4 linked regions of the Homo sapiens genome follow. The protein of the gene in region 3 interacts with the protein of the main gene of each other region in a pairwise test. Each region holds a gene or a part of one and is shown on either strand. Other genes may lie near its edges.

Region 1 (7,474 bases), on a different chromosome or scaffold from region 3:
TGAGCCTAGCCTCAGTCCCTGATCCCTGAAGGGTCACTTAGGCCCTCACTTTCCTCCTTCCTGCCCCCCACTCATCCCTCCACACCTGAGTCTTGGCACCAGGAGAGAGAAGGGGAAATGCTAAGTTGCTAAGTTGCCTAGTCATGCCGTTCTTAACAGCTCTGTGAGATAAGCACAAGCACCACTCTCATTTTGGATTGAGAAGCTGAGGCTTAAAGAGGGATCCCTTGCCCAAGCTTTTACAGCAGGAGCAGATGTGATCCCAGCCACAGCTTCCAGGCCCCTGGGCTCCTCACACCTTACCATATACCCCGCAGGCTGCTGCCAGGGCTGCTGCCCCACTCCCTCCTCCTCCTTCCCCTGGAGTCAGTGGTGGGAAGCTTCCCAGGAGAGTCCTCAGCAACCTCTGGAACACAGGACTTGGCCATGACTGTCTCCTGTCCCTGTGTGGGCCCAGATGGTTGAGGTACATCTAGGGGTTCTCATCCCAGCTAGGCTCAGGTTGGGGCAGCCTGAAACAGGATGGGTCCCCTTCTAGAAGTCCCTTTCAGCTAACAGTCTGGAACTTGCAGTTGACCCAGATAGATTCAGGAGTGTAGGCTAGACTTGGCTTCCAGCCTGGGCCCTGTCTGGCGTTCTGGGCTTCAGTTTCTTCATCTGTACAGTGGCCTCAGGAGGATGGGAGGCCCCACCTGGTAACAACCCTGTGCCACCCCAGCTTGAGCAGGAGGTGGAGCGGCGGCAGCGGCTGGGGCAGGAGTCAGCAGCTAGGAAAGCCCTCATCGCGAGTTCCTACCACCCGGCACGGCCTGAGGTCTACGACTCACTGCAGGTACCAGCCAGCCAGAGTGCTTGAAGGCCGGTACTGGAAAGAGGAGGTAGCATCCAGGGCTGGGGGTGCTGCCTGCCCCACAGCTGGTGTGTTTTGCTCCCAGGATGCAGCTCTGGCCCCCGAGTTCCTGGCCGTGACTGAGTACAGCGTGTCCCCAGACGCAGACCTCAAGGGCCTTCTCCAGCGGCTGGAGACAGTATCGGGTGAGGTCCTGGCCCTGAGACCTGGCAGGACCAGGGAATGGCAGCCTGGGAAACCTGGGTGTGGGATGCTGGGGTCCCTCCAGCCACCATCTCTGCCTCCAAAAACCAAACCAGCAGGAGCTGGAAGGGTCAGTGGGACCAACCTGCCAGGAGCAGGACATCCGCATTCATTCATTCAATACCTGCCATGAGCCTGGTATCTTCATTCTTTCCTTCACCCTTCCTTCGTGCCCTCATCCAGCAAATAGTGGATATTTGTGTCATGTGTGGGACAGCTGGCACACTCAAACAGGGCTGATCCAAGATCTTAAAGGGACCATTGAGACAGGTATGGGCAGGATAAAGGGACCAGTAAGGAATGGCAAAGCCCGGCCCCCCAGGGCTGGCAACAGGAGGGAGCAGTTACCACCTGGAGTTGTGGCTCTGGGCGGAGGCCTGCGGCCATGCCAAACTCCAAGTAGGGCAAAAAATGCCCCACTTCTCTTCGGATTTCTTGCTGGGCTCACTTATTGGCTAAACCCAGCAGGAAATGCTGGGCAAGGGAGGTTTGCGTGTTGTTTAACCTCTGATTCAGTTTCCTCATCTGTAAAATGGGAGCAACAGTAACCCCCTCTCTTAAGGCACTGCGACGATCAAGTGAGTTAATCTGCATAGAGTGCCTGTCACAGGGCCCGCACGTAGTGTTTGGAAAGTGTTTCCTATTCTTATTGGCACTGATAGCCTGGGCTAGGGGCTCCTGTGGGAGGCAGATACAAGTTTCCCCTCATGGAGCCTGTGCTTTGTTGGGAGTCATGGGTGGAATGAATCCCCCTCCTCCCAGCCTGGGGGTGCTCTCCTCATTGCCTTCCACTCCCCGGCAGCTGAGATAGTGCTGAGGCTGTTGGCTGGGGCAGGGCCTAGGCTGCGAGGTGGCCCCATCGTGGGCACACTAGCCCTGCACCCCTGGGCATTGGTGCGTCCGCCAAGAAATGTTTAGGTTTCCATTCTCAGCCTGGTTTCTTCCCCCTCAGGGCCCAGCAAGAAAGAACAGCCCCTTCTGGCCTTCCTGCTGGGGGACAGAGGCTCCCAGAGCCACTTCTGAGTTGGGGTACAGACTTCGGTGGCTCATCAGATGAAAGGAGGTGCAGAGAGAGCCTGAAGTTGGCTCTGTGATCCCGACTTGGCTGTCACTGGCCTGCTGGGTGTCCCTGGGCTACTTCCTTCCCCTCTCTGGGCCTCAGGACCCATATGTGAGCTCCCAGGGCCAGCCCTGTGGACACTTGTAGAGTCTGGGGAAAGGTTCCGGGCATAAGTGGGGGGCATGGGAATCGGCCTCCCCTGCTCCTCATGTTACTTCCTTAAGTCATCACAATAGCCCTGAAAAGCAAAGGCCTCATCTCCATGGCACAGGTGATGAAACAGGAAGACTGAAGCCCAGGCCTGGCCGGCCCACGGCCACATTCAGGCCAACAGACCATCCCTCCTTCCACAGAGGAGAAGCGCATCTACCGGGTGCCTGTTTTCACAGCGCCCTTCTGCCAGGCCCTGCTGGAAGAGCTGGAGCACTTCGAGCAATCGGACATGCCTAAGGGGAGGCCCAACACCATGAACAACTACGGGGTGGGTGAGGCCTGGCCGGTGGCAGAGGAGGGGGTGGCTGGGGTCAGGAGGCAGTGTCAGAGGTTCTGCAGATGGGCTGCCTGCCCGGGCTGCGAAAGAAGGTCACAGTGGGATCACCGTGGAGTGGAAGCCCAGGGTTGCAGCCCTCTAGTTTCCTTGCTGACCCCAGGAATCCCCTCCCAGGTGCTGCTGCACGAGCTCGGGCTGGACGAGCCGCTGATGACACCACTGCGGGAGCGCTTCCTGCAGCCGCTGATGGCCCTGCTGTACCCTGACTGTGGCGGGGGCCGGCTCGACAGCCACCGGGCCTTTGTGGTCAAATACGCACCGGGCCAGGACCTGGAGCTGGGCTGCCACTATGATAATGCCGAGCTCACCCTCAATGTGGCCTTGGGCAAGGTCTTCACAGGGGGCGCCCTGTATTTTGGGGGCCTCTTCCAGGTGAGTGTGTGACCCATGCGGCAGGGCCTGGGGCAGCTGTGAGTGCCCAGGCCTGAGTCGTGCCATCTGCAGGCACCCACAGCCCTGACGGAGCCCCTGGAGGTGGAGCACGTGGTGGGCCAGGGTGTCCTCCACCGTGGCGGCCAGCTGCATGGAGCCCGGCCCTTGGGCACTGGTGAGCGTTGGAACCTTGTCGTCTGGCTCCGAGCCTCTGCTGTGCGCAACAGCCTCTGTCCCATGTGCTGCCGTGAGCCCGACCTGGTGGACGATGAGGGCTTCGGTGATGGCTTCACCCGAGAGGAGCCCGCCACGGTGGATGTATGTGCGCTCACCTGAGCTTGCTTGGGCCCAGTGTGGGGGTGGCAGGCAGGTGAGGGCTCCGTTGCCTTGGTCTGGGGGCAGAAATAAAATCCCCGCAGCCTACTGCACTTCTTGGCTCAACGGTGTGCCAGCTTCTGGGTCATTCTATGGGCAAAGATGCTGCCTTAGTTCAGGTTTGTCAGAAGCAGGGTCTGGAATGGGGCTTCAGCGAGGGAGTCAGGGAAGCAGGGGAGGGGAGGGAGCAGCTGGGCAAGGAAGTGGCTTCAGAGGACGTCCAGCCTCAGCTGGCCCCACGGAGAGCTCCAGGCAGAGCCCACAGTACCACAGTGTGCCCACACCACCGGTTACTGGCTCCTGGATGAGGGGGCCAGAGAGGAGTGAATAACTTCCCAGACACTTATCTCCAGGGCAGGGTGCCTTCCAGTAGCCAAGGGAAGCCTCCAGAGAGCACAGATGTGAACCCTCAGCAGCAGGCATCACCCCCCAGTGGACTCGGGTGGGCCACCAGTAGCATCTTCTAGATGGCAGAGGGGTGAATGGCAGGGCCAGGAACCAGGCTGCCCGGGTTCCCATTCTGCTTCTGCCACTTCCAGCTGTGTGGCTTTAGGTGAGCCTTCACCTTTTGGTGCCTTCGTTTCCTCATTTAGCACCTACCTCCTAGAGCTGTTTTGGGAGTCAAATGCGCTGACGTATATAAAGTGCTTTGCAAGATCCCTTTGTGTTTGCGGCTGTCATTGTGGAAGAGTTGCAACTTGGGGGCCCGAGATTGGATGAAGCGCACAGCCACGCTTTGGGTTACACATTTGAAACTCAGGGGGCTTCCATATTGCAGTCTTGAGTTTGGTCTCCCTGGGAAGGTGGGGCACCAGCCCCATGCCACGTTGCACGTATCAGCTGGAGCAGAATCCTGGCTTCCTTCCGGATGGGCCTGGGGTCCATGCCCGCGCTCACTGCCAAGATCTTTCTGGCCCCTACGGACACGAGTTTGCGACCTCTGAGTCACTGGGTGGGCGCGTCGGAAAGACCAGGGCGCCTCAGTCTGGAGCTCGCAGTCGTATGGAGAGGGCAGGACCAGCCGGGGAGGAGGGCGGCGCGCGCGAGGGTCGCCTTCTTCCCAGGGCACCGGGGGCGTGGGTGCTGCGGGCGTGCGCCGAGAGGGCAGCCTTGGAAGTGGGCGCAGCTTCGGCAGACACAGGCGTGAGGGGCTGCGGAGCTCGAGGGCCGGCGCCCCTGCTTGCCTCTGCGGGAGGTGGGCGCGCCCGGGACGGAACCTGGGGCGTCAGAACGAAAGGCAGCGGCGCCGCGCTTCCCAGCCGGCCAGCCTCCCGCGCAGCGCCCCGGCCGGAAGCCTCCTCGCCGCCGCTTCCTCTCGAGAAGGCGCGGGGCGGGCTGTCCGGCCCGCAGGGCGGTCGAGGTGGGAACGGAGCAGCCCCGGGGGCCCCCTTGAGGCGGCGAGGCCGCGAAGGGCGCGGGGCTGGAGGGTAGGAGAGCGCGGGAAAGCGCCCCAGACGCCACTCGCGGCGGACGGCGGCCAGTTCCCAGGGGTTTGGAGCCGGGTGCGCAGGCGTGGGGCCTCCGGGCACGGGGCGGGCCCTTAACAGGCACCGCTGCGGGGACTGGAGTCGGCGGAGAAAACCGGGGTCCCCAGCGCTGGGGGTGGGTGAGGGTCGCTCATTTTCCCGGGACGGTGACGGGTACTGGGCGTCGCCAGGCCCCGGCCCCGCTAGAGCCACCCTTGGAGCCCGCCCGCGGCCGGCCTTGGGGGCTTCGGCTCAAGCGCGTCTTCTTCGTCGCCAGCCCGCGGCGCCATGGCTCACGTCGGCTCCCGCAAGCGCTCGAGGAGTCGCAGCCGGTCCCGGGGACGGGGGTCGGAAAAGAGAAAGAAGAAGAGCAGGAAAGACACCTCGAGGAACTGCTCGGCCTCCACATCCCAAGGTCGCAAGGCCAGCACGGCCCCTGGGGCGGAGGGTGAGGACCACAGGCATCGGGGAGAGGAGGCGCAGTTACTACCCGGGGAAGTCGGGCGAGCAGTGGTCGGGGACGCTCAGTCATGCCTCTGTGCAGCCGGGCCTGAGATGTGAGGGCCAGGCGCCGCAGGAGCCAGGAAGGGGCTCCTCTGGGAAGCTCCATCTCTGTTCTGGAAAGCCCCTCAGGAAGCGCTCACCCTGTAGCCGGTCTGTGCCTGCCCCAGGCCAGAGCAGGGGACGAAGGTTTACCTCTTCCCCTCCTGGCCTTCCAGCCTCACCTTCTCCCTGCATCACAGAGAGAAGCAAGCAGAAGGCCCGGAGGAGAACAAGATCCAGCTCCTCCTCCTCTTCTTCCAGTTCTTCTAGCTCCTCTTCTTCCTCCTCGTCCTCCTCCTCTTCCTCCAGTGATGGCCGGAAGAAGCGGGGGAAGTACAAGGACAAGAGGAGGAAGAAGAAGAAGAAGAGGAAGAAGCTGAAGAAGAAGGGCAAGGAGAAGGCGGAAGCACAGCAGGTGGAGGCTCTGCCGGGCCCCTCGCTGGACCAGTGGCACCGATCAGCTGGGGAGGAAGAGGATGGCCCAGGTACTGTGCTGCCCAGCACCTGAGAGGGAGAAGGTCGCTTCCCAAGGCCTGGCCACCACCTCCGTCTTCCCTTCCAGTCCTGACGGATGAGCAGAAGTCCCGAATCCAGGCCATGAAGCCCATGACCAAGGAGGAGTGGGATGCCCGGCAGAGCATCATCCGCAAGGTGGTGGACCCTGAGACGGGGCGCACCAGGTGGGGAGCTTTCGGCCTGACTTACACCACAGGATCTGGGAGTGTTGGCTGAAGATGTGTGCTCTCGGGAGGAGTGGGGCCGGGCGGGGTTCCTGGTGCCTGAAAAAGGCCAAATGTGGGCAAAAATACGGTCACTTGGAGTAAGTAGTTGCAGGGGCTGGAAGGGCCTGGAGGAGGCTCTTGAAAGGGCTGTTGTTGGCCGGGCTGAGGCTGGCAAGGCAGAGCCCAGCTCCACTGCCTTCATCAGGGAGAGTGGGTGAGGCCCCAGGGTCTGTCCACTCAAGGCTGCGGGGTGGGAGCCCTGGGACCCCTCTGCCGGCTGCTTGTGGTTCTGCTCCTCTGGCATTAGGGGACCTGCCTATTCCTTGCTGAACGGAGACCCTCCCACCCCCAGGCTTATTAAGGGAGATGGCGAGGTCCTAGAGGAAATCGTAACCAAAGAACGACACAGAGAGATCAACAAGGTGGGTGTGGCCCCTCTGCCTGCCATCCGCCCCCAGCTCTGTTTGTGATGTACCCCTCCTCCTGTGTGCTTTCTTCCCCAGCAAGCCACCCGAGGGGACTGCCTGGCCTTCCAGATGCGAGCTGGGTTGCTTCCCTGAGGGCCCCCGCTGGCCAAGGCCTGTGGACGACGCTGGCGGCCCAGCCTGGGCAGGTTTCAGGGTGCCAGTGGGAAGCCTGATGGGTGCTGGTGGCCTTTCCCCCGTGGATTGGTCTCTGGCCCAGCCCAGTCTCTTCTCAGGGGCAGGGGGTGGAGGTTGGGGTCACCGGCCTGCTTGGCACCCCCATCTGAAAGAGCAGCACTTCTCAGCTATTAAAGGCCCCCTGGATAGACTTTCTCTGTTCTGTGGCTTTTTGTGCTGAGTGGGAGGGAAGGGTGCTACATGACTGCCAGGGAAAAACAAGGGCTCCGGGAGCTTTTGGGCAAAGCTGGGGTGTCCTCTGGTGGTCGTGAGCACAGGCCACACCAGCGCCTGTGCCTTCCTCTTCAGGTCAGCCTGCCTGGACCAGACCTCATGCCAGCTGAACCCCAAACCCAGAGAGCTGGCTCTGAAATGCCATGCACTCAGGCATGGAGAGAGTCGGCTTCCCCTGCCATGTTCATTCCACAGATCGCAGCAGTGCAGAGCCAGGTGCTGGGGCTGGGTGGCCTGTGTGGCAGGTCTGGCTCTCACTGCCCAGCTGTGTCTTCCACTCTGAGGCAGGGAGGCTCACAGCACCCGTTTCACTGAGGTCTGTGAGGGCAAACTGAGTTCCATCCCAGGAAGGAGCTAGAAGCAGGCTAGGCCTAGAGTCAGCCCCGCACTCACGTGTTGGCGTCACTGTGAGTGTCAC
Region 2 (7,039 bases), on a different chromosome or scaffold from region 3:
AAATTTTATCAGACGACAGCACAAGGTCAGGTACAGGTGTGCCTCAGTCTGCCCAGGGGTGTGTTATCCTCTCCCCAGCCCTCAACACTAGATCAGTGAAATCCAGACTCTAAGGGACTTCGATTTTGGACTTTCAGTGAGTGCTCTCCCCTCCCCCAGTTATCTGATAACATCTCCCCCAGTCTAAAGTTCCACTGGCAGCCAGGTGCCCGGCTCTGTGCTACAGAGTGCTTTATGGACGTGACTTTGTTTGAATCCTAAGCATAATAATAGCGGGAAATGGTTTCATGGTTTCACGGTGCGTGCGAGTACTGGCTCTGATCTGAGTCCTTGACGCATTGACTCATGGGCTTCCTGAGGACCCTGAGAAGTGGGTTTTGCCTCCATGTCCATTCTGCTGAGGATTGCAGGTAACTTGGCTAAGGTCTCGCGGCAAGGGAATGGTGGAGCCAAAACTCGAATCCAGACTTGGCACCCAAGCCCTTCACCAGTAAGTTTGTCACCTCCACCACCTGAGCCTTTTCTTCAAGAAGCATGGGCTCATTTTTTTAGTGAAATTTTTTGTTATTATGGAAAATGTCAAACACACCAAAGTTAGAGGCAGAGTATAATGAGCGATCAGGTTTCCTCACCTCGCATGCACACACATACACATACTCACATATGCACATGCATACTTATGCTCACAGAAGATGTGCACATGTGTACACACACATACATATGCACACACATATATGCACACATACACACACACGCTGGATTATTTTGAAGCAAATACAAGATGTCAGGTCATCTGTAGCTTCTTCCTAAGAAGCATTTAAAGGAAGCATCACATCTCAAAGAGGTTGACTGTTACTCTATGCGGGGCAAGAGTCGGGAGATGTACGTCCTTTCTGACTTGGGCTTGAGGCTCCTTCCTTGCTTGGACAAAGGGAGGATGGCAAAACCCAACAGCACATTGGGGGATCTGTCCTGCTGCCAACCCCCTGAAACCTTTGGGAAGCTGCCTGTTTGCTTTGTGTTTTAAAAGTTCTGTTCATTGCCCAACGTTAAAAATAAATGAGTCCAGTGGTCATGAGACAGACCACATCAACAACAGGCTTAGGCTCTCGGGGCCTTTCTTGGAGATGGGGAAGAGAATCCGCCAAGGCACAGCCCAGCCTTGCCTGCCATTGAGGTCCAGACCTTGTGCAATGCAGGCATGGGATTTGTGGCAGGGCTGGGTGTCAGGAGATGTGACTGTGAGAATGGTTTGTCAACAAGCTCTGAATCTGACCTGAAGCTTAGCCTGACCCTCTTGAGTTTACTGCGTAGGCGATGGGTGGAGGAATCCAAGAACCTCTGCCACCCTTGGGCGTCTCTTGGAAAACTAGGGAGGCATTGGGTGATTTGAGCACAAGATGAAGAAAATATCAGGATGCAAACTCCACACTTGAGAAATGACTGCTGAGTAGGAATATAGGATTCCAGGGTTGGAAAAACCTACCTGTGACAAGGGCTTGACGGGTGCCCCAGTTGTGAACACACCTTGCCAGACAGTCAGAGTGTGGCCAATCTGGTCACACCCTTTCCAAGGTCAGAGTGAGGAGCTGCACTCCACACCAAGAGAACCACTTGAGTTTTCTAATTTATACAAGCAGACACCAAGGGAGCATGTGTGGGAGTGGATATTAGGATGTGGAACGAACATGAAGTTGGATCTGGCCGAATTTATGGATATGGGCCCACTAAGCGGAGATTCTGCACTTGATGTTGTAGCTCAGGGGGTTAAGAAGAGATCTGTTTGGTTGGCTGACTGGAACATGGATCAAAGGATGACCCACTGTGAGTAAGTTGGAGTTTCTGGGTCTCCTTTGGTTTAATGTAGAGTTAGGGATTCATAGGCTTAGGTTTCATGTAGAGTTAGGGATTCAAAGGCTTAGGGACATTGGAATGCTGGAGTGGATTTGTCTCTTAAAAGCTACTCACCCACACTGGGAAGGTTCAGAAGACAGATCTTTCACGCATACGTTGAGAAATAGATTTGTGAGGGGGCCCCAGCATCCCTGAAGAGCTCCGTGATCCAGCCCTTACAGTGGGAGCCGCAGTCACTCAAATGGAAAACTTAAATGCAACGGGAGTAATTGCATTTGGAGTGCAGCGGCCAAGTGGCAGTACTCAGCCATCCAAGGCAAGGTGAGTGTGGTTACCTAATGGACGGCAGAGGCAAAGCTGCCGTCAGAATAGTCTGACTTGTGTGGATCTATGGCATTGGATAGTTAATCATGGTGTTCCTAGAAGTGAAATAGACAGGAAACCCGTGAAATTCTTACTTGATCTTATAAGTTACTTGATTCTTTTAAGTTTTCTGTATAAGCAGAAACTTACAGGTCAAATGAAAAAAAGTCTAACTTGAATAATTAAAACAGAAAAATAATTAAAACAGAAAATCACAGCCCTCAATCAACTTCCCAGACTTAACCCAGTTTACACAACTAAGCCCCCATGAATGAATGAATGAGTGAATGAATGAATGAGTGAACGAATGAATGAATAAGTGAACGAATGAATGAATAAGTGAATGAATAAGTGAATGAATGAATGAATGAATTGGAAGCTGGATCCCTTTGAAGAAGGACCTCAGTACACTAGAGAAAGTTTATGCTATTAATTTTTCTCCTAGCCTTCCCCAAAGGGACCTGTGACCTTTTACCAGAGTGAATATGTATTGAGGAAAGGGAAATAATTAGATTGTTCGGGGATAACTGGTTACTGAACTGATACTGATTCCAGGAAACCAAAAATATCACTCACTGTGGCCCACTAGTCAGAGAAGGGGCTTATGGAGGTCAGGTGATCAATGGAGTTTTAGCTTAGGTTTGACTCCTGGTGGCTCCCGTGGATCCCTGAACCCATCCTGGGGTTATTTCCTGGTTCCAGATTCAAAGTTGACATACTTAGCACCTGGCAGAATCCACACACTGGTTCCCTGCCTTGTGCGGTGAGGGCTGTTATGGTGGGAAAGGCCAAGTGGAAACCATTAGCGTTGCCTCTGCCTGGGAAAATAGTACATCAAAAGCAACATTGCATCCCTGGGGTGGGGCTGCCGAGATTAGCACCACCATCAAGGACTTGGAGGAGGCGGGGGTGGTGACCCCCACCACATCCCCATTCAACTCTCCGATTTGGCCTGTGCAGAAGACAGATGGACTTTAGAAACTGATAGTGGATTATTGTAAACTTAACCAAGTGGTGACTGCAAAATTCACACATCTCTGGTCCCTGCTACTGCATGCAGCTGTTGATCTGACGAATGCCCTTCTCTTTATACCTGTCCATAAGGCCCAGCAGAAGCAGTTTGCATCCAGCTGGTAAGGCCGGCAATGCCCCTTGGCGGTCTGGGCTGATGGGTATATCAGCTCTCCAGCCCTATGTCACAGTTTAGTTCACAGTCATCTTGATCACCTTTCCCTTCCACAGATATCATACTGGGGCTGGGCACGGTGGCTCACTCCTGTAATCCTAGCACTTCAGGAGGCCGAGGCAGGAGGATCGCTTGAACTTAGGAGTTTGAGACCAGCCTGGGCAACACAGTGAGACGTCATCTCTCTCTCTCTCTCTCTCTTTTTTTGAGATGGATTTTTTGCTCTTGTTGCCTAGGCTGGAGTGCAATGGTGCAATCTCGGCTCACTGCAACCTCCGCCTCCCGGGTTCAAGCAATTCTCCTGCTTCAGCCTCCTGAGTAGCTGGGATTACAGGCATGCGCCACCACACCCAGCTAATTTTTTGTATTTAGTAGAGACAGGGTTTCACTATGTTGGTCAGGCTGGTCTTGAACTCCTGACACCAAGTGATTCACCCGCCTTGGCCTCCCAAAGTTCTGGGATTACAGGCATGAGCCACTGCGCCCGGGCCGACATCATCTCTATAAATTTTTTTTTTTTTTAAATTAGCCAGGCATGATGGTGTGTGCCTGTGGTCCCAGCTACTTGGGTGGCTGAGGTGGGAGGATCGCTTGAGCCTAGGAGGTCAAGACTTGCAGTGAGCAGTGATTGTGTTACTTTACTCCAACCTGGGCAACAGAGTAAGACCCTGTCTCAAAAAAAAAAAAAAAAAAAGGGTCTCATGCTGGTCCATTACATTGATGTCATCATGCTTCATTGGACCTAGTGAGCAAGAAGTCGCAACCACTGTAGCCTTATTGGTAGGACATTTACATGTCAAGCGATGGGAAATAAATTCTACTGAAATTCGGGGACCTTCTCCCTTAGTGAAATTTCTCGGGGTCCAGTAGTGTCAGGCCTGTGAAGGTATCCCCTCTAAGGTGAAGAATAAGTTGTTACAGCTTTCCTCCTGCAACCAAGAAAGAGGCACAATGCCTCGTGGGCCTGTTTGGACTTTGGAGGCAACACATTCCTCATTTGGGTGTGTTACTCCAGCCCATTTGCTGAGTCACCCTAACGCTTCTAGTTTTGAGTGGGGCCCGTAGCAGAAGACTGCAACAGGTCCAGGTTGCTGTGCAACCTGCTTTGCCACTTGGGCCACCAGCAGATCCAGTGGTGGTTGAGGTCAGCGGCAGACAGGGAGGCTGCTTAAAGCCTTTGGCAGGCCCCTGTAGATGAATCGCAGTACAGGCCTTGGGATTTTGGAGCAAGGCCCTGCCATCATCCACAAATAACTTCATTCCTTTTGAGAGACAGCTCTTGGCCTAATACTGGACCCTAGTAGAGACTTAATGTTTGACCATCAGCCACGAAGTTGCCATGTGACCTGAGCTGCCCATCATGAAGTGGGTGTTATCTATGATCTGACCGACCAAACCAGACATTGGGCATGTGTGGCAGAACGCTGCCATCGAGAGGAAGTGGTATATATGGGATCAGGTCTGAGCAGGTCCTGAAGGCACAAGTAAGTGACATGAGGAAGTGGTCCAAAGGCCCATGGTTCTTACTTTGCCCACTGCCTTCTCTCTCCAGCCTGTATCTATGGTCTCCTGGGGAGTTCCCTCTGATCGATTGACAGTGGAAGAGAAGACTTAGTCAGCCTGGTTTGCAGATGGCTACAGATGGCTCTGCACTATATGAAGGCACAACCCGAAAGTGGACAGCTGCAGCACTATAGCCCCTTGCTGGGACACCTCTGAAGGATGGGGGTGAAGGGAAATCCTCCCTGGCAGAGCTTCGGGCAGTGCACCTGGTTGTGCACCTTGCTTCGAAGGAGAGATGGCCAGATGAGTGATTATATACTGATCCATGGGCTGTGCCTGATGATTTGGCTGGATGGTCAGGGATTTGGGGACTTGGAAAGAGTATGATTGGAAGATTGGTGACAAAGAAAGCTGGGGGCCTGGCATAGTGGCTCACACCTGTAATCCCAGCACTTTGGGAGGCCAAGGTGGGAGGATTGCTTGAGCCCAAGGAGTTCGAGACCAGCCTGAGCAACATAGTGAGACTCCCCGCCCCCGCCATCTCTACAAAAATAAAAAATTAGCTGGGCGTGGTAGCTCATGCCTGCAGTCCCAGCTACTTGGGAGGCTGAGGTGGGAGGATCACTTGAGCCTAGGAGGTTGAGGCTGCAGTGAGCTGTGATTGCTCCAGCCTGGGCAACAGAATGAGACCCTGTATCAAAAAACCCAACCAAACAAAAAAGCAATTGGGGGAAGATGTATGTGGATAGACCTGAGTGCGCACAGGACACGGATAGACCTCCCGAGTGCGCACAGGACATGAGGTATGTGGGTAGGATGACCTAGGTGGATTCTCGTCAGCCTCTTTCCCTGGCCACCCCTGTCATCGCCTGGTGGGCTCAGGAACAAAGTGGTCATGGTGGCAGAGATGGAGGTGATGCATGGGCTCAGCAGCATGGACTGCCACTCACCAAAGCCGACCTGGCTATGGCTACCACTGGCTGCTAGTCTGCCAGAAGCGGAGACTAACACTGAGCTCCAGTATGGCCCCATTCCCCGGGATGATCACTGCACCTGGTGGAAGGCACATTGGACCACTTCTGTTTTGGAAGGGGCAGCGTTTTGTCCTTACTGGAGCAGGCACTTATTCTGGATACAGATTCGTCTTCCCTGCACACAGTGCTTCTGCCAAAGTCACCATCCATTGATTGACAGAACACCTTTCCCACTGTCACGCTGTCCGTGTAGCACTGCTTCCAGGGAGCTCACTTCACAACCAAGGAAGTGTGGCACTGGGATCATGTGCAGGGAATTGGCCGGTGAGCACGAGCCCACTGGTTTCGCCTATCATGCTAAGTGGAACTACGGTCTTGTTATTGCCTTTATTTGGAAATTAAGTATGGTTTAAGAAGATGCCAGTGGGTGCCTATGGGTGCCAGTTGGTAAGGGGTGGACCTGTGATGATTGATTTTGGATGTCAACTTGACTAGATTAAGGAATACCCAGGTAGATGGTAAAGCATTGATTATTCTCTATGCTTCAGTACACACTGAGCCTGTCCCTTTTCTGCTGACAGGGAAGCCCAGTGGTTTGACATTGTGTAGAATGATCGGGCTGCCCCAGATGTGTCTGTGAGGGTGTTTTTGGAGGACACTGGCAATTGAGTCACTCAACTGGGTGGGGAGGATCTGCCCTCCATGTGGGCAGGCACCATCCAGTCAGCCGGGGGCCTGGAAGAAGGGTGAATCCTGGCTCTCTGTCCCGGAGCTGGGATGCTCTTCTCCTGCGCTTGGATGTCAGAACTCCAGGTTCTCTGGCCTTTGGACTCTGGGACTCGTACGAGTGGTCTCCGGAGTCTTTGACCTGGGACTGGGAATGACCACGTTCCCCACCATCCTGAAGCAGCTGACTTGAAAGAAGGGCAGTAGAGTCTTTTGAAGTTGCAATTACAATGCCAGCTAGGTGACAATACTTTGTAGGGCTGGGTCAGGGGTCTTCAAAAGGCTCTATGTACTCTGTATCAGCATCCAATATATGGTGCTGGTTTCTCCCGTAGCCAGGATTCACGGGTCCAGGAATCAAGGGGAGGAAATGGGAGTGGCACTGCGCATCATATCCCCTAGGGACCCGCTAGCGAAATTGTTGCTTCCTGTT
Region 3 (5,899 bases):
GCTTTCTTTGAACTAATTTTTAGCAGTGTTGCTGATTAAGTTCAACACCATTTTACCAAGCCATTAAAAGATAATTATTGAAGCCTAGGAAAGGGTTCCTAGATACAGTGAATACCCTCTACTGAAAACGCAAAGGACCTTGGAGCCACCCAGATACCAACCCTTGGAAATCCTCTAGCAGGAAGGGGTCAATGCTGAGAATGCCTGAGATCTGGCTACAACAGTTTAAAAAAGCAGTGACAATGTGTCCATTTCCACCAAAGTATGTAACAGAAGGAAAGAATCAGCAGCAGTTTTGTGTTCTCCTTGCAATGACTTACAAATTATTACCCAACAAGAGAGGTATTTGTTTTTACTTTACTGTTGCAGAGATGGTCACAGTTGTAGCAAGAGCTGAGCAAGTCAGTTTTCTCAGCATCAAAGTCTTTCTCCAGGAATAAGGTGATTCAGCAGCTCACTAGCCGAGTGGCATGCAGGCAATTCTGACCTGAGGCTAGCTTTCCCCTAAGCTCCTTCCAATTCTTTGTGTGATTCAGAGGGAGGCCCATTCATCTCTTGTGACCCATAGGAATCATGCTTTGGATTGGGGCAGCTTTTTTCTGCCAACTTTATCCCCAGTGACACTAATGATGAACACCGGCTGTGGAGCAGTGTGCTGAACAGTACAAACACAGCTGGACATTAAAAGAATTCAGCAGGCCAGGAGCAGTGGCTCACACCTGTAATCCCAGCACTTTGGGGGGCTGAGGCAGGTGGATCACATGAGGTCAGGAGTTCGAGACCAGCCTGACCAACATGGTGAAACCCCATCTCTACTAAAAATACAAAATTAGCTGGGCATGGTGGCACATGCTTGTAATCCCAGCTACACGGGAGGCTGAAGCAGGAGAGTAGCTTGAACTCGGGAGGTGGAGGTTGCAGTGAGCCGAGATTGTGCCATTGCACTCTGGCCTGAGCAACAAGAGTGAAACTGTCTAAAAAAAAAAAAAAAAAAAAAAAGAACTTAGCAAACACTGCTGGAAGGGATGTGGTAGGTGTGTTGCCTTTTCCATGAAGCTCTCTTACCCAACTGGTGTTCCAGGGCCTGGATTTGAACCTTAACCCCTGGCTTGACCAGAGAGGGATAAGATGAAGAGTTTTGGCTCTGCAGAGTTCTTCTGTGGGTTCACATGAAGGGAAGACTGGAACTCTGACCCAGAGGCTTCAGAAGGAAAGAACAAATCAGTGATTTGTTGTATTTCTTCCTGTCTTTGGGAAATTGCCCCACCCACCACCTTGTGTTTTGCTTTCCTGCTAATTAAATTGAAAAAGATAGAAATACTTCTCAGATGGAGAGAGAAAGTCTGAAAGCTTTTGAGTTCCTGCTGATTCTCTGCCTGAAAATAATTTAGTATCTGTCCCCAGATACAGGCTGAATTTCAGCCAGACCAGTCTGAAATATCCTAGGCTTTTCATTTAACTGTGGACCTGGACTCCCCTCCTCCAATTTAGGAAAGACCCTGGTTTTTCTTCTATGTAGGCTGAGGATATCTGCAAAAAGGCCTGAAATGTGCCGAATTGAGTCTTGGTTCCAAAATTGCTCTAGGGAAAAAAAAGAAAAAAAAAAAAGCTCATTACCAAATTATTTCCTAGAACCAATACTAGACAATGGCTCTTATAGCATAAATCTTAGCTGGAAAGTTCTTTCTAGTCCCTCTTCTCAGCCCCCCTCTCCCTTTGCCTTCAGCCAATTGTGCCAAACAAACCCAGGAGGGAATAGCAATCACTTGGAAATTTAGATGCCAACACCTAGGATCAACTCTAGCTAAAAAACAAGCAAACTCTTCTATGTGACAAACATGAACTAGGACTAAATACTTACACATATAGATACTGCACAGTTTCTATATGTGCAGTATATAGAATATTTTACATATTTTGAATATTTTACATATTTTGAGATCATATCAGATTTTTGCTCCACTATAGTATATATTATTCTTAAAAGTTCTAAACAAGACAATGCATTCTTTGAGCAGTACTTAAGAGTTTATCATTAGGAAATATCTGCAGCACTTTCAATGGCCCAAGAAGAAACAATTCTATTGGAGGGCAGTGGGTAAAGATATCTAGAGGCATTTAGTGTGCGCCTCCCCCATGCCCAGCAAAGCTTCAATGCTACATCTATATTGTCTTTCTCAGTACAACAGCCCTGCACAGTGAATATTATTATACCCATTTTGCCAGTGTGGAAGCTGGGGCTCTAAAAGCCTGAGTAACCTACATGCAGTTGCATATCTACGCAACAGCAGGGCTGAGACTCTATCTAGTCCTGCTCCCCCCAGGAGGGCCTGGAAGCCATTCAGCTTCCTAGCTGTACTGCCTATTCCACATTTTAAAGTTTAAAAGAGCTAAACCCTTCAGTTTTAGCAAGAGCTAAGAAAGTCACTGTTTTCTCAGCACCAAAGTCTTTCTCCAGGAATAAGGTGATTCAGCAGCCCACTAGCTGAGTGACATGCAGACAGTCCCGAGGCTAGCTTTCCAATAAGCCCCTTCCAATTCTTTGTGTGATTCAGAGGGAGGCCCGTCCATCTCTTGTGGCCCATAGGAATCAGGCTTTGATCAATTCCATACATCAGATGTAAGCCCCTACTCTATGTCAGCACTGGGAAAGTGAGTGAGGACCCTGGTAAATACACATGACATGAGGACAGAACTGTACGTGGAACGGGGAAGTCAGGGTGTGTGATAAATGCAGCTTCCATGACTGAACATGGTGCCCCCACCGTTAACTGAGGCTGCTTGCTCGTATTGAAGCTGTCACCTTGCTTCCATTAGATGGAAATTTGGGTTGTGCCCAGGCCTTAGAGTGGGCACTCATCATCACAGCAGGCAGAAGGATGGGTCATGTTTCCATGTGACTGTGTACAGGTAACTGGGTCTATAGGTTTTCCTGAATTCAAGGGTAATATTTCACCTGAATGATGAACAATTAAATAGCAGGGGCTATTTTTCTTCTACGTAGGCTGAGGATATCTGCAAAAAGACCTGAAATGTGCTGAATTGACTGTTGGTTCCAAAACTGGGAAGGGTTGGGGTTGGGGAGAGAAAGGGTGGGGACGTTGTTCTGTGTTGTTTCTGTTTTTAATTAAACTTGCTTAATTTCATTACCCAGGGTAACTGCCTTTGCATTTTCATTTATCAACACATAAGCCATAGTCTGACTCTACTCAGCCTATGGGTAGGAGCTGGCAAGGGCAGCCTCATGCAGAAGGGATATAGACCAGCATGACAGGAGGTGGGGATACAGTGGCCCCCAACACAGTGGGAGTCATTGAGTGGTCCTCCACTCCTCTACCCTTGATTTGGCCTGGGCTTTGTCCATTGAAGTCCCTGAAGGGCCTTTCTTAAGACTGAGCTTGCACAGGAGAAGGTGTTCTGCTGATTTCATACCCCAGGAGGCTTCTGTCTATGAACTTTGAGCTAGGACTGTCTCATGTCTCCAAATAAACTGCCTCTTCATGTCCCTGCTCACTCAGTGTGAGCTCTACAAAAGGATCACACTGTTCCTGAAGACTTAACTTCCATCCCAATGGGACAATTTCAGGTTCAGTTATTGCATTTTGGTCAAAATTGCTGATTTAAATCACCTTTGTTATCACCTCTCTCCCCCCCTTCTTTGAGTCTTACTGAGGTGCCAAGATTTAATCCGACAGTCTTTTTCTGAATATCATTTTTAATTGATATTGATTTATCATTAAAAATAAAATGATCATCAACTCAAAACACTTACTGATAAATGACAAAAGCTTTCTGAATATAACTTTCAAATTCATATTTTTAAAAGAGTATTTATGTAGCAAAGGAGCTTTATTTATCTATTTTTTATTATACTTTAAGTTCTGGGGTACATGTGCAGAACATGCAGGTTTGTTACATAGGTATACACATGCCATGGTGGTTTGCTGCACCCATCAACCAGTCATCTACATTAGGTATTTCCCCTAATGCTATCCCTCCCCTAACCCCCACCCCCCGATAGGCCCTGGTGTGTGATGTTCCCCTCCCTGTGTCCATGTATTCTCATTGTTCAACTTCCACTTATGAGTGAGAACATGCGGTGTTTGGTCTTCTGTTCCTGTGTTAGTTTGCTGAGAATGATGGTTTCCAGCTTCATCCATGTCCCTGCAAAGGACATGAACGCATCCTTTTTATGGCTGCATAGTACTCCATGGTGTAAATGTGCCACATTTTCTTTATCCAGTCTATCATTGATGGGCATTTAGATTGGTTCCAAGTCTTTGCTATTGTGAATAGTGCTGCAGTAAACGTACATGTGCATGTGTCTTTATAGCAGAATGGTTTATAATCCTTTGGGTATATACCCAGTAATGGGATTGCTGGGTCATATGGTATTTCTGGTTCTAGATCCTTGAGGGATTGCCACACTGTCTTCCACAATGGTTGAACTAATTTACACTCCCACCAACGATTTTTTTTTAACCATTCCAACATCAAGATATTATAATTGTGCCACCTTAATAACAAGAGCTCTCCAGGAGTCAGGAATGTTGATGGATATTAAGGGATGAATTTAGGAACAATTAAGTACTGGAAAAATCTTTGGTTGGTTTCTGCTGATGCCATCTACAAAAGGAAAACACCCATCTACCAAAAGAAAGCAAACGGTAGGGAGACTAAGGAAAATCTAGGCAAGTCCCCAGACTGCAAGGCTAGAGAAAATGAATCCACCTAAATACTTGCAGAACGCAAAGCACACCCCTAACTTGTAAATATATTGTCCTCTCTCCAGTTACACAGACATTGGTCCTTCTCCTCTCTCAGATTTTGGTCCATCAGTTCCACTACTTTGATAGCTCTTTGATACCTTTAAGGTGGTGTCTGTTATATTGCGTCTGGCTTTTTCCATTGCTCTCCTTCCCAAATTGAACTAGAGATGCTTTTAGATGCAATGTCCCTGTTTCCTTCCTCCCTGCTCCTTGTAGCTCCTTCTGGACGAATGTCCATCGTTAAGAACCTGCAGAACCTGGACCCCAGCCACAGGATAAGTGACCGGGACTACATGGGCTGGATGGATTTTGGCCGTCGCAGTGCCGAGGAGTATGAGTACCCCTCCTAGAGGACCCAGCCGCCATCAGCCCAACGGGAAGCAACCTCCCAACCCAGAGGAGGCAGAATAAGAAAACAATCACACTCATAACTCATTGTCTGTGGAGTTTGACATTGTATGTATCTATTTATTAAGTTCTCAATGTGAAAAATGTGTCTGTAAGATTGTCCAGTGCAACCACACACCTCACCAGAATTGTGCAAATGGAAGACAAAATGTTTTCTTCATCTGTGACTCCTGGTCTGAAAATGTTGTTATGCTATTAAAGTGATTTCATTCTGCCCTGTCGTTCCCTGCGTCTACTGAGGGCAAAGGGCTCCATTTGGTCCTCAGAACATGCAAGGAGGGAAGCCTGATAGATGCTACACTGGGACAAATCCTTGTAGTAGATGTCCCCAGAAAGGGCTTGGGAAATGCAGCTCAGACTTGGAGCTAACTTTGCTACAGGCCAGGTGGACAGTGAAAGGGCCATCTGTGGGCAACTCCAGAGCCCAGCCCTGGCCACCCTGATCCCCGATCTTATTTACCAATCCTACTCCCATCAGGGTTTCCTTGGGGTTCTCTTGGCCTTTAAACAAGTTACAGGCAGTAACTGGCCATGGTTTTGCATACATTTGATCACTCCATGGCTCTGTGGCACAGAAGTTATCATCCTTTCTTTACAGATGAGGAAACAGGCTCTGAAGAGTGAAAGTGACTGCCCCTTATGCCCCAGCTAAGGAGATTCACAGACTGGAGGGCTTAATGTTCCTAGGCTATCGGGACCTTCATCACTCTAGCACTTCTCCA
Region 4 (3,273 bases), on a different chromosome or scaffold from region 3:
TGGATTCTCAGAGGATGGACTCCAGATAGATATACAGTGCATCACACTCTTCACCATCCCCATAGTAAATACAATAGCAAGATTCATGGGCCTGTTTCTTCTAACACCTGTCAATACAAGCCAAAGCATCACAGAGAAGTGCAAAGTTAAAGCATCTCAAAAGCGGCCAACATGATGCAGCCCAAATATAGTGTAGTCAGAAATACTGTTTAAAATGATCCACTGGTTAAAGACCCACTATTTAACACTACTTAATCTGTTTAACTCAGATTTTCTAGTATTTCGAATACTAATGACATATTAGGGAATTCTTAATACTAGATGATATCTGAAGTAAGTTTTACTTGCCATACCCTAATCAAAATATAACAGCACTGACAAAAATCCCTAGGAGGCAAAAATAAGACTTAAGACTAAAATTCCTGACTTGTGATTATGAATTTAGTACCTATGTGGACAAAAAATGGTCATTCCTCAAAAGCCAAATAAAGCACCAGACAGAATTATATAAAAGTAATTACAAATTAAGAATTTATTTATAAGTTTTCATCTTTTTAGAAATAAAAAGGCTTAAAAAACAAAATGGTTGCAAAAATGGTTAAGTAGTTTTGTTATATCCTAATTGCTTAGGTGTGCTCTGTAAATTCCAAATAAGTAAAATAATATAAAAATACATTTTCATATCTTTATAGAACAAAAACAAAACATTAAATGCTTTTGGATTTTCTTTACTCCTCCCACAGATGAGTTCACAAATACAAAAACTGGTGTACATTTATACTCAAGTACAAATCTCCAACAGCCAAGTAATTATAGTTTGTTCTGTTATGTGCAAAGTAGATTATTTCATATTTACTTGGTATGGAAAGCAGAGTACAGGCTCAATGGACAATAATCATTAAACACAGATTATGTTTAAGAAAATGCTGTTGTAAAAATGTACAATAGTACATACAATTTTGGTAATTATGCACTTCTTTTAAAGTAAATACAGCTTTTAGATATAAATCTTTCAAAGGTTTTCTTTGAAGAGCTGTGAGGTGACTATTTCAGATTTGATGAACAGTAATTTGTCAGTAAACTTCTCAAAAAACCAATCCAAGAAAGAATTGTTTTCTTTTTCCCTCCATGTGGTCGGTTTCATTCTTAAGGAAGGTCTGATGCAGTAAGAAGATGCATTTCACAAACCTTTACACAAGTTTGTGAACTGTCAACTAAAGACACCACCTCTGATGTGGATGGTTTCATTCAATCCATGTTCGACCAGCTTTATATCTTCTAGATCGTCTTTAATGATGCTAATCAAATGGCTAAGGCCTTCCTGTTGTTGTTTCAAATGCTAGAACAAATTAAGAAACAACATATTAATGTATTAATTTCTTAAAACTGCAAGCTAGTCACAGGAAAAAAGACTCCACTTTGACTATTTTACTAGCAACACAGTACCTAGTAAGTGCTCTAAATATAGAGGGCATGCATATTTAAACATTTGTACTACATCTTTTGCTAACAGTGAAAGACAAACTCTAAAGAACAATAAAATCAAACAAATATATAATGAACAATATCTTCCAACAAAAATGTTTTTTAGATAGCTATTCCTTTTACCAACTTTTGATAAAGGCATGATAATAAAACAGAACTCAAAGGAGGTATTCAAATATAGATGACTAGCAAAATAACATTCTGAAAACTGAGAATATTCATGTTTTGAAGTACAAAGTACATAGTGATAATGGTGGTGATGACTACAGATGCTAACATTTTTTTAAGACTCCTCCTCATGGGTTAAGGTGCTGTTTTAACAGTACTGGTATTCACTCACTTAACTCATTTAAAATCCTTTTGAGCCCCCTTTGGGGTACCATTATCATCTCGACAGTTAAAGAAACTACAGGTAAATAACCTGCCCAAGGTCATAAAGTAGATGGTGAACCATGATTCAATCCCAAAACAATACACTGCTCATAATTTTAAAAAAGACAGGTGTTTAAATTATTCCCAGTTTTATTGCATATATCAACTCTATTTAATACAACTATTTATTTCAATATACTGGAACCTGTTAATTTATTGCAAATACTTAAAACAATGGAATATAATTGGTTATGTGTGTAATATCCAAGAACCTGGAAGCCAAAGTAGTTTTTGGTTGCATAAAACCAGCCATATCCATTCTAACATAATAAAATTGGATTTGTTGATGACATTTATAATCTTTATCTAAAATCCTCAGGGCCATGCCAACAGTCATTAGCTACCTAGTATGTTCCACAAAGTTCATCATCTTCATATATTTTCTTTAGATACAACTGTTCATTTTCATTAAACCAATCTGCATTTATACTAATGAAAATAAGCCAAAGCAGTGTTTCCCAACTTTTTCACACAATGTGAAAACCCTAGAAAAGTGGTTGGAGGTTCTGGCCACCTCAACCTACCTCCATCCAGATCTCCTGAGAGCTTAGGGGACAGATCAATAACCAAATGTTTATAACTTACATGCGACATATAGGCAGGGAAGGTATTATCTAGAGCAGTTGCTTCTCAAACTTTAAAGTGCATACAAATCATTCTATGATCTTGATAAAATGCAGATTGAGTACGTCTGGAGTAAGGACTGAAATTTTGCATTTCTAATGACCTTCCAGGTGCGGCTACTACCTACACTTTAAGGAGCAAGGTCTAGGAAACTTTAGTGTCTCTACTACCTCTAAATTCATCTTTTTGGCGAGGAGAGGGATAATTCACTTTTTTAAACAGTGGCAAAACAGGCATACCATAAAATTTTGCCTGTAACTATTTTTAAGTATACAGTTCAGTGGCATTAGGTACATTTATGCTGTTGTGCAATAATCAACACTATCCACTTTGTTTAGAACTTTTCATCTTCTCAAGTTGAAATTCTGTACCAGTTAAGTTCCTCCCATCCCCTCCTCCCCTCACACCCTGGCAACCACCTTTCTACTCTCTATTAATTGGACTACTAGGTACTTTTCATAAGTGAAATCATAAATATTTCCCTTTTATGAGTGGCTTATTTCATGAAGCATAACTTCTTCAAGGTCAAATTGCATTGTAGCATGTGTCAGAATTTCATTCTTTTTTCAAGGCTGAATAATATTCCATTGTGTGTCTATATACTACATTTTGTTTCTCTATTCTTTGATTGATTCTTGGGTTATCTCCACATTTTGACTATTGTGAATAAAGATGCTATGAACATGGGTGTACAAATATGTTTTGAGTCCCTGCTTCCAACGTACTTGGGTA

The links.
Region 1: the proteins of CCK (region 3) and ARL6IP4 interact in binary tests that used the Homo sapiens proteins (3 or more experiments, as listed by UniProt).
Region 2: the proteins of CCK (region 3) and SPSB1 interact in binary tests that used the Homo sapiens proteins (3 or more experiments, as listed by UniProt).
Region 4: the proteins of CCK (region 3) and NUP54 interact in binary tests that used the Homo sapiens proteins (3 or more experiments, as listed by UniProt).

Annotation. Positions count from the first base shown.
Region 1 is NC_000012.12:122,975,936-122,983,409, forward strand, and holds ARL6IP4 (ADP-ribosylation factor-like protein 6-interacting protein 4), read left to right. Parts: upstream 1-4,745; 5' UTR 4,746-4,810; exon of another isoform or gene 4,811-5,052; intron 5,053-5,193; 5' UTR 5,194-5,204; coding exon 5,205-5,364; intron 5,365-5,635; coding exon 5,636-5,944; intron 5,945-6,021; coding exon 6,022-6,139; intron 6,140-6,533; coding exon 6,534-6,603; intron 6,604-6,684; coding exon 6,685-6,741; 3' UTR 6,742-6,974; downstream 6,975-7,474. Other genes in the region: OGFOD2 (2-oxoglutarate and iron-dependent oxygenase domain-containing protein 2), read left to right, coding at 719-832, 936-1,035, 2,507-2,634, 2,818-3,075, 3,148-3,411.
Region 2 is NC_000001.11:9,295,886-9,302,924, forward strand, and holds part of SPSB1 (SPRY domain-containing SOCS box protein 1), read left to right. Parts: intron 1-7,039. UniProt on the Homo sapiens protein: Substrate recognition component of a SCF-like ECS (Elongin BC-CUL2/5-SOCS-box protein) E3 ubiquitin-protein ligase complex which mediates the ubiquitination and subsequent proteasomal degradation of target proteins.
Region 3 is NC_000003.12:42,257,318-42,263,216, reverse strand, and holds the end of CCK (cholecystokinin preproprotein), read left to right. Parts: intron 1-4,985; coding exon 4,986-5,119; 3' UTR 5,120-5,391; downstream 5,392-5,899. UniProt on the Homo sapiens protein: This peptide hormone induces gall bladder contraction and the release of pancreatic enzymes in the gut. Its function in the brain is not clear.
Region 4 is NC_000004.12:76,114,156-76,117,428, forward strand, and holds the end of NUP54 (nucleoporin p54), read right to left. Parts: intron 1,340-3,273; coding exon 1,211-1,339; 3' UTR 509-1,210; downstream 1-508. UniProt on the Homo sapiens protein: Component of the nuclear pore complex, a complex required for the trafficking across the nuclear membrane.